2 separate regions of the Homo sapiens genome follow, and region 2 is linked to region 1. The links come from fine-mapping of genetic effects on gene expression. A gene starts in region 1. The other region holds a variant in brackets. All regions are shown on one strand. Distances are from middle to middle. Region 1 holds the start of C1orf146 (chromosome 1 open reading frame 146). Region 2 overlaps GLMN (glomulin, FKBP associated protein).

The links. PIP is the estimated chance that this variant, and not a neighbour inherited with it, causes the effect.
Region 2: its variant is the best candidate, but not a certain one, in a credible set for the expression of C1orf146 in visceral fat (GTEx, PIP 0.90).

What each region holds. Positions count from the first base shown.
Region 1 is chr1:92,215,197-92,220,585 of GRCh38, reverse strand. C1orf146 (chromosome 1 open reading frame 146) reads right to left here and starts at 2,671. Exons shown (of 6, transcript NM_001012425.2): 1 at 2,538-2,671.
Region 2 is chr1:92,285,847-92,291,235 of GRCh38, reverse strand. GLMN (glomulin, FKBP associated protein) reads left to right here. Exons shown (of 19, transcript NM_053274.3): 5 at 930-1,038; 6 at 2,085-2,322; 7 at 4,644-4,746. Among named protein-coding and RNA genes, the nearest start is that of GLMN, 10 kb to the left of the region's middle. The variant C/T (reference allele first, on the strand shown) is at 2,511.

The DNA.
Region 1 (5,389 bases):
TTACTTTTTTTACATTTAGATATGTTTAGATATGCAGGTTGCCTACAGTATTCAGTACATTAACATACTATACATATTTGTAGCCCAGGAGCAATAGGCTATACCATATAGCCTAGATGTCTAGTAGACTACACCATCTAAGTTTGTGTAATTACACTCTATGATGTTCTCACAATGACAAAATCACCTAATGATGCATTTCTCAGAACACATCCCCATCATTAAGCAATGCATGACTGTATGTGTATATACCCAGATTAGTACACACACATCTATTTCTTTACTCTGTTAGCTGAAAGGGCCTAAAACAAACGACACCCTAGCACCTGGGTGCTAGCAACAAGTACACCTAGCACCCAGATTTTGGTTTCTAAATAGCATTCTCCAAAAAAGGAACCAGGGCTCCTTGGAGAAATGGTCGATTCTAGGACTGGGACAGGAAACATACAAGATGAGTCCAGAGTAGTGCCAAAAAGAAAGTACTTAAAAACAAAAACAAACAAACAAAAAAACCCCACACAGATGGCATTGATGGGGCATGTCATAAGAGCACAGGAACCAACTGAAAGAGCTCCCAATGGCTAAAGCTGGAACAATTTGAGCAAAATAAAATAGCATTATAATCCAAAGTATAAAGTGAATATCCATGAGTCTATACTGATATAAAGGTTTGAACAAACCAATAAATGGAGAAGAGACAAATCTGTGCAGAATAATTCCAAAAAATTTATGTATATATACTCCAACCTTAAGAACAGGAGCATGGAGCTGGGCACAGTGGCACACACCTATAATTCAAGCTACTCGGGAGACTGAAGCAGGAGGATTGCTTAAGGCCAAGAGTTTGAGGCTGCAGTGCATTATGTTTGCACCTGTAAATAACAACTGTACTCCAGCCTGGGCAACATAGCAAGACCCTGTCTCTAAAAATATTAAACAGTGGGGGTGGGGAATATAACTCCCCATTCCTTAGGTGTGGCTGCACACCCAGGAGGTGGAGGTTGCAGTGACCTGAGATCCCATTCCTGCACTCCAGCGTGGGTGATAGAGCGAGACTCTGTCTTAAAAAAAAAAAAAAAAAAAAAAAAAGAAAGAGAAAGTCACTTTCAGTGATGGTAAGTTAGTATCTCCCAAGGTGATTTCATTCTACTTTTCAACAACTTTAATAATTAGAAAGTTCTTCCTGCTGAGTTGAAACCAGCTGCTCTCTAATTTCCTCATTTATTGCATGAATGAATGAATGAGAAGTTAACTAGCTCCATGAGAGCAGGGACACATTCTGATTCTGTTTTACCTTACTCAGCACCTGGCACTCAGTAGACACTCAAAGATTTGTGAATGAGTAAATGGTGAGTTGGCTGGGGGAAGGGCTTCAACTTCTATAACCCCCCCTACACATACTTACTAATACACCCACATAGCTATGAATACATATATGCAAAGGTTACAAGAACTTTTTGGAGTAGTTACTGGTATGTATGTGGATATGTATGTTTGTGCCTATCAGTTAGTAATCCATAAATGTTCATTTAAATCTTTACACCCTTATACATAGGTTTTAAAAACAATTTAACTAAAGCTAAGAGAAGTAAAGTAATCACGTGCACAATAAGTGAGAAAGGAGTGGGGTCAGTCGTGTCCCAAGTCCCTGTTAAAGGTGAGGAATGAATCAGAAACCTGGGGCTGGGGCAGTGCCTTCTCAGCATTTCTGGGGAAAAGCTCCTCGACCAGCAGCCAAGCAAGGACTGTGTGGCTTTGGGCAAATCACGTCACCTCTGGTTAGGCTGCATCCTCACCTGAAAACAAAAAGCTTCTAAACGGGAGGTGAACGCTGAGCGTGCAGGGACAGAGGGGAGGGGCAGGCGCGGGGGACGGGACCGGGGGACCAGAAGGTGGAGGAGGGACAGTCACTAATGGGCACCTGGGGGACGACAGAATCTGGACAACAAACTCCCGTGACACGAGTTTAACCTATGTAACACACCTGCACACGGACTCCTGAACCTAACATAAAAGTTAAATTAAAAATAAAAACAAAAAGCGTGGGCCCAGTGGCCTCTTAAACCTTTGCCAGTTCCAAGGCCCTGGTATTCTGGGCTTTTGTTGCTACTGTTTTGTTTTTTCCAAGCTCTGGAGTGTTTGCAAATTTAAGTTTAACACTGCCCCATCATCTCCAGCAAGTCACTTTCCCTGCTCAGTCTCCTCACGGGTCCAGTGAGGCGCCGGCCTACAAGGATCTTCACGGTCTCTTCCATTCTTTACTTTTCGGAGTGACCAACAAAGCCTAAAGCAAATAAAATTTACACTCGCAGGTGGGTGACGGACTTCTGACAGGGAAAACCCCGAGGGAGCCCTTTCCACACCGATTCTCAAGGGGAAAATAGGGTGGGCAGGATCTCCTCCCCTCACCCGCCAAAGCCCTGAGGTAAAGCTCTGAGCTCGGCAAGTCAGAGAGCACTACGCCGGCGAAGAACGAAGAAAGAAAAACGCGAAGAGACAGGTCTGCCGAGGCCTCATCCCCAGCGCTGCAAACCCACCTGCTCACCAGGTCCTCAGAGACCGCTCAGGGTTTCCCAAACTTCCAGAACGTTCCGTGAGCAGTGAGAGGCGCCGCCGGTAGGGCAGAGCGCCCAGGGTGCCTGGGGCAGGGTTCTGCAGTCGCTGGGCTTCTGCGCAACCGCAGACCCCGCAAACCTTTTCCGCGCTTCTGGCTCCCTAGAGCGAGGTTTGCAGGAAGCCGGAAGTGGTTAAGAAGATACAAGATTTGTAGGCCTGGCGCGGTGGCTCATGCCACTAATCCCAGCACTTTGGGAGGCCGAGGTGGGCGGATCACGAGGTCAGAAGTTTGAGACCAGCGTACCAACATGGTGAAACCCCGTCTCTACTAAAAATGCAAAAATTAGCTGGGCATGGAGGCGCGCACCTGTAATCCCAGCTACTCGAGAGGCTGGGGCAGGAGAATCGCTTGAACCCAGGAGGCGGAGGTTGCAGTGAGCGAGATCGCACCACTGCACTCCAGCCTGGGTGACAGGGCAAGACTCCGTCTCAAAAAAAAAAAAAAAAAAAAAACAAGATTTTTGCGTGTTAGACTCAGTTGTCCGGAATTGATTTTCACAGTTTTCTAAAATTCAGGCTCAATTCTTAGATTTCTGTCATTTGCAACATAAAATCAAAGTGGCCTTCAGTTTATCCAAATTATGAAAAAGGTAGATTTTCATGAGCAGCTGTCAAAAGGACATACAGGGGCCTGTGTGTTTGCTTTTTAGGACCCCATTATGTTCAGACCTAATTGAAGCTCAGCAATTTATTAAGTGTCACAATCATAAAAATGTAAAAAGACAAAGACCACTACTTGCCTTGAGCCTAATGGTTAGGATACAAAACTATGTGCCTTACTTTGTAAAACAGGTATTCCTGTAGAAAGAAAGGTGCTCCAGGAAAAATCCTTTGGAGCACACTTGTGATGTGCTGTTAATTTTTCCCTGTGATAACCATTTTGTATGTTTGGCATTTTGTATAACTGATATTAAAATTAGGTGCACTCTTGCTGCCTCATTTGGGCAGTTTGTTAAGCCACCACACCTGGCCTCTTGTTTATAAATTACCTGGTCTAAGGTATTTTGTTATCGTGGCCATAATGGACTAAGACAATTCCTCCTCTCTTCAAATCTCCAGAACTTATTCCTCATCTTCATTTTCGGCTGAAGTGAAATAGTTACTGCTAATATTTCATAAAGATTTATGATTTTAATAGTATTTAGTATTTAATATTAAATACTATTCAAATGAGATAAATAAAAGCATCCAGAAACGAAGTTCCACAGATGTCCACCTACCAATCTACCAACATCTATATGCCAGATTCTGCTTTCTTTCCAACTATAGTAGGTGAACTGTATAATCCTATGTAAGGCCAGCCCTCAAATGGACAACAGAGCCCATCTCTTCTTGCTTACCCAAGAATATAGCTCCACCGGCCAGTCGCGGTGGCTCACGCCTGTAATCCCAGCCCTTTGGGAGGCTGAGGCAGGTGAATCACAAGGTCAGGAGATCAAGATCAGCCTGGCCAATATGGCAAAACCTCATCTCTACTAAAAATACAAAAAATTAGCCAGGTGTGGTGGTGCACACCTGTAGTCCCAGCTACTTGGGAGGCTGAGGCAGGAGAATTGCTTGAACCTGGGAGGCAGAGGTTGTAGTGAGCCAAGATCATGCCACTGCACTCCAGCCTGAACAACAGAGCAAAACTGTCTCAAAAAAAAAAAAATATATATATATATATATATATATATATATCCACCAATTATTTCCTGACTCTTACAATCTTCAATTTTCTCCTCTCCACTGAATAGTCTCAATAGCAAATAAATATGCCATTATTTCTCTCATCTTAAAATCTCTTAATCTCCTCTCCCACACCAGCTAACAATCCATTTCTCTGCTCTCTTTACAGAAAAACTCAAAAGGATTGTCTATAATTTCTGTTGCTAATGCCCTTTTTTCCCATTCTTTATCAAATTTATTCCAATCAGACTTTTTCATTTCCACCATACCACAGAAATTGCTCATGTCAAAGTCATTGGTAAATCCAGCAAACAGCTGTCAATACTAATTTTACTTGGTCAATCAGCAGTACTTGTTACAGTTGATCATTCCCTCCTCCTGGAAAAACTTTCTTTCCTTGGCTTCCCCATATCATGCTCTCATGGTTTCCCTCCAGCCTCACTGGCCATTTATCAGCATCCTTATTGGTTCTTCCTCAAAACCCAACCTTTTAATCTTGCTTGGAGTGCCGCAAGCTCAGTCCTTGGACCTCTTTTCTTCTCTGGGTATATTTGTTACTTTGGTGTCCTCCTTAACTCATAGTGTTAGATATCATCCATGTGCTGACAAATTCCAAATATCTATCTACAGCCCTGGCCTTTCCCCTGAACTCCAAACTGGTATAACCAATTGCTGTTTAATATTTCCAGTAATAGACATCTCAAATTTCACATGTCCAAAACTGAACTTCTGACTTCCCCTCCCAATGCTGCACCATCTATAGTCTTCCTTATCTCAATTAAAGATTACACATATTTTATTTAAATACTTTGACTGTCTTACATACCCTTTTCAGCCATCAGGAAGTCTTGTTGCCTGTACTTTCAAAATATATCCAGAGCCTGACCACCTTTCTGGTTTGAGCCACCATCAGCTTTCACCTGGATTATTGCAATAGACTCCTAACAGGTTTCCGTTTTCACCTTGCCCCTAAAGTCTTTTTTCAACATAGCAACCAGGGTAATCCTTTGAAACAGAAGTCAGATTGTGTCTTTCCTTTGCTTAAAACCATATAATTGCTCTCAAAAAAAAAAAAATAAAAAAACAGGCCAGGCACAGTGGCTCA
Region 2 (5,389 bases), 71 kb before region 1:
ATTTTCTGGATAAAAGAATTGTCTAACCTCATATTAACCTCATATCGGACCCATTGATTCAGCATCTCCAGGGAGAGACCTGGGAAGCTATATCTTAACAAGTAGCCTTATCGTATAGATGTGGAATACAAGCTTTAGAGAGGTAGTTCAAGGTCACATTTATCTTTTGGCAACATTGGAACTAGATTAAAATCTCAGTCCTCTTTCCTTTGTGGTATGTTCCCTAAAAGAAAATGGAAGGCCTAGAATACAAGTGATTAAAATTGAAGTAGGAATAGGGTAGAATACAGATCAGTTGTGACTAACAACCTTAGAAAGCGACCCTGGGTAAAAGGCTAGTAGAGTTTACAGTCAATATTTGATGGCCAAGAAAGATAAATTCTGAGAAAAAGTATATTATAAGAAACTGTTTAGTGATCAGTGCAAATATACCCAAATATATATTGGAAGGAGAGCTCCATCTGTATGAGTTATTGACTATGGGAGCTGGGAGCTTTTAAAAAACCAGTCAAGTGAGATGATAAGATATGGCCAGTCAGAAAGCAATGCAAAGTTTTACCTGTTCAAAAAATACAAAAGAGATTCCAGACTAGTCTAAATAGGCTTGCAGCATGGGATTGAAAGGTCCCACCTGCTGGAGCCCCTGAGAATCTGTTAAGGCAATTTCAGAGTGGACAGGTGAAGCTCAAAGGAAACCTGAGCCTAAAGATCCATTGACTTCTTGCTTTTTAGTTTTATAGTTACTTGACCATCACAGATTCTGTGTTTTGCTCATGCATATTTTTTCAACAATTGTATAAATAATTTTAATGTTAAGCAAAAACATAATTGTATAATATTTTGTCGATACATGCCTTCTTAAAAATAGTAATAATGTGGCTTTAAATACAACTTGTATTAAACAGGTTCAATTGTGAATATTTTTATAGTTATGCAATCCAAAGGAATTATTGTTGGGTTTGCTTGAACTGATTGAAGAGCCCTCTGGAAAACAGATATCCCAAAGTATTCTTCTTTTGCTTCAGCCATTACAAACAGGTAATGAGAATTTTGATATCAGAGTACTTCTTGTTGTATCTCTAAATGCCTTGATGGTTACCTCAAAATGTCAATACTACACCAAAGTAAAGTTTACAGCTAATTAGTGAGTACTCTGCTTAAACCAATAATAGCAATGCCAATGTGAATACTGCTGCTCATAGAAAGATTATAGTATCTGGCCAGAGTGGGTACCCAGTAAATATTCTGTTGAATGTCATACTATTTTTCATGTGCTATATTGAAAACTATACCTTTTTGCCTAACCTTCCTATCTGCTGCTTAAATCTAGAATTTTCTCTCTAAACATGTTTCAAGGGTTACCTCTGTGGTGTCTGCAGTACTAAATCTGATAGCATTATGGTAGTCTGGAAGAGTATCAGGCAAGGCATTGCTCAGCCTCTGCTTTGGGAGGTTGGATTGGGCATAGCAAAGCTACTACTGAAGAATGAAACGAGGAGATATGGGATGATAAGGCTCCATGGCTGAGTGCAGTAACAGTATTGGTAGGTAATGGGTCTTAGCAACCAAGGCAGACAGTATCCATAGGAAGAGGTTATTTTTCATTTTAGGAAATTCGTTTATCTCACAATCTGATAGAGGGACCTAGAATCAGAAATTAAATTTGTTTTAAATATGAATGCCTGCCAGCTTCATACTACCTGTAATATTCAGTCTTCTAGGGAAAAAAAATCTAATAATACCACCTCCTATTTGTGTAGTGCTTTATAGTTTACAATACACTTATATTTTGTGCTTATAACAACCCAAAAACATGGAAAGAACATGTTTCTGTCTTAAGTACATAGCCTGTTACACATAGTCTGTTATAAACATAACCTAAACAGCATTTCATGGCAAGATGCTGTATTATTTTATGCACAACTAAGAAGAAAAAAACACTGCCAATTAGACTGTGATGTGTCATCTTGATTCAAGAGTTGTTAAAATGTGGGAGGAGGAAGTGTCTTATAATTCCACATTTGCCGAATTTCTTGTCCCATGTTTAGCATACTTGATGAGCGACAACTTGATCTCTGTTTTAGTGATTCAGAAACTTCATAACAAGGCATATTCAATTGGATTAGCATTGTCTACCCTTTGGAATCAGCTATCTCTTCTTCCTGTTCCATACTCAAAAGAACAAATACAAATGGATGACTATGGCCTTTGTCAGTGTTGCAAGGCCTTAATAGAGTTCACTAAGCCTTTTGTGGAAGAAGTCATTGATAACAAAGAAAACTCACTGGAAAATGAAAAGTTAAAGGATGAATTACTGAAATTGTAAGTATAATTTTAAGAACATCTCACAGTGGACTTAAGTAATTGATAGTTCAGTTATTTTATGTTTCTTCACTTTGTTTGACATGTAAATAGAAATCTAGTTTCAGATTTTGAATTTTAGAAGAATGTGGGGTTCAGTTGATACAGCATGGGAACTTGAGACATTTATATTTTAAAAAATTATAGGC[C/T]GGGTGTAGTGGCTCACACATGTAATCCCATCACTTTGGGAGACTGAAGTGAGAGGATTGCTTGGGGCCAGGAGTTTGAGACGAGCCTTGGCAACATAGTGAGACCCCCATCTCTATAAAAAAATTTAAAAATTAGCTAGATGTAGTGGCATATACCTGTAGTGCTACTGCTTGGGAAGCTGAGGCTAGAGGATGGGTTGAATCCAGGAGTGTGAGGCTGCAGTGAATGATGATTGGCCACTGTACTCCAGTCTGGGCAACAGAGCAAGACCCTGTCTTTAAGAAATTAATTAATAAAATAATTATAAAACCAAAATCCATTCATTTACTTTATATTCTTCTTTGTATTGCCTTATTCATCATAGTAGGTGAATAATGAAAGTGGGGGAAATAGATACATGTAGCTCAGGGTGAGTGTGGGAAATAGATATAGGTAGCTCTGTGGAGAAATTGTGTTTTACTCTTTCAAAGGAAGCAGCAGAAAGACCACCAGACAGAACATCCAACTGGACCACAAAAATAGTGGTAGAGTATCCACCCAATAGCATTCCCTCCATGGGTACTATAGACTAAACATCTACTGTTCAATATGGCTGTAGCACTTGACATATGGCTGGTCCAAATTCAGATATACTTTAATTATAAAATATCCCCTGGATTTTGAAGACTTGTTATTTAAAAAAAAAAAACAGTAAAATACCTCAATTTTTATATTGATAACATGTTGAAATGACAATATTTCAGATATACTGGGTTAAGATAAATTATTAAAATCATCTCTCCCATTCTTACTACTTTTTTCATGTGTCTACTAAAAGATCTTAAATTATATATGGGGCTGTGTTATATTTCTATTGGACAGTGATAGACTAGATTAATTACATGGACCAGTAATTTTTAAATTTTGGCTACTTGGGAGGCTGAGGCAGGAGGATCACTTGAGGCCAGGAGTACAAGACCAGCCTGGGCAACATAGCAAGACCTCGTCTCTAAAAAATAGAATATAAAATAATATTTTAATTTTGGAGACTAATACTATTTTTAGCTTCCTACTTGTCAGGTTAGGACATTTAAAAAAAAATTTACAGCCAGACGTGGTGGCTCGCACCTGTAATCCTAACACTTTGGGAGGTCAAGCTGGGAGATTGCTTGAGCTCAGGAGTTTGAGACCAGCCTAGGCAACATAGTGAGACCCTGTCTCTACAAAAAATAAAAAAGTTAGCTGGGCACAGTGGTGTGTGCCTGTAGTCCCAGCTACTTGGGAGGCTGTGGCAGGAGGATCCTTTGAGCCCAGGAGTTTGAGGTTACAGTGCACTATTATTGTGCCACTGTACTCCAGCCTGGGTGACAGACACCCTGTCTCAAAAAAAAAGTTTTTTACCATTTATAAAACCCATTATTTCATAAAAGAAAAGGTATTTTAACTAAAGAAATAGGAAAGGCTTAATCACAGAATAAAGTTTGGTTTTCTAAATAAAACAAATAGAGCTGTGTGAAAAAATGACTGTATTTCTTGATTTTTTCTTTGAACTAATGAAAACAACATCATAGACTAGCACCAGCCCTCAAACATTCAGAATTCAATGGAATAGTTCAGATGTAGAAGTCAGTCTTAGCATGTTGAGTCTAGCAAGGTGTTCTCATGTTCTCCCCATTACTAGTACGAACGACGTTACATCACCAGTTTTATAGACCATTGAGTTATTGATGCTTGTCTTAATCCATTTGTGCTGATATAACAGAATACCTAAGACTGGGTGATTTATAATGAACAGAAATTCATTGGTTCACAGTTCTGGAGGCTGGGAAGTCTGCAATTAAGGCGCTGGCATCTGGCAAGGGCCTTCTAGCTGTGTCATAATGTGGCTGAAGGTAAAAGGGCAAAAGGCAAAAGTGGGCTGAACTTGCCCTTTTATAACAGCATTAATCTCATCCGTGAGAGTGGAGCCCCCTTGGCCTAATTCCCACCTCCTTATGGCAGTTAAATTTCAACATGAGTTTTGGAGAGCAGAGTCATTCAAACCATAGCAGTGCTTATGTTATTTTTCAAGTAAAATTAACTTAGATTTGAAGACCTAGGGATTTTATACTTGGAAGTGTTGATTTCATAGTTACCTATTTCTTATGCCTTAGTTGTTTCAAAAGCTTGAAATGCCCTTTGCTGACAGCACAATTCTTTGAACAGTCTGAAGAAGGTGGAAATGATCCTTTCAGGTATTTTGCATCAGAAATAATAGTAAGTACAGCTAATTTAATCTGCTATAATCTTAAATGTTATCCCACTATATTCTCAGTACTGCACATGTAAATTGATACATTCATTAATAAAGAAATGTGTATTTTTTGTAGAACACACATAAACAAAAGATGGAAAATAAAACAGCAATAATTTTATTATCCAAAGATAAATATTAACATCCTCCAGGCTTTTTTCTTATATACTTATTTATAATAATACATATATATAAATTTTTCAAAGATTTTATATATATATATAATCTTGTAATCTACCTTTTTCCTCTTCAACAGTATATTATGAATATTTTTCCATTGGCTTAATAGTGTTCCATGGTATGGACTTAGTATAATGTATTTCACCTGTGCCATATAGTTCAACATTTGGATTGTTTCTAATTTTCCATTATTGTAGGACAACTCCAAGTTTTCTTTTTTTAACTGTTAAGTCTATGATAAGTAACCTAGTAATTAAATTTTTGCATACTTTTCAAATTATTTCCTTAAAACTCCTAGAGTGGAAATTCCATGCCCTGTGATAAATATTTTCAAAATAGCTCCATATTTAAGTAAATTTTATTTTAAAAGCAATTTGGCTTTATGCATCAATAGTATTTTAAAATGTGCTCAGATTCTGTATTAGA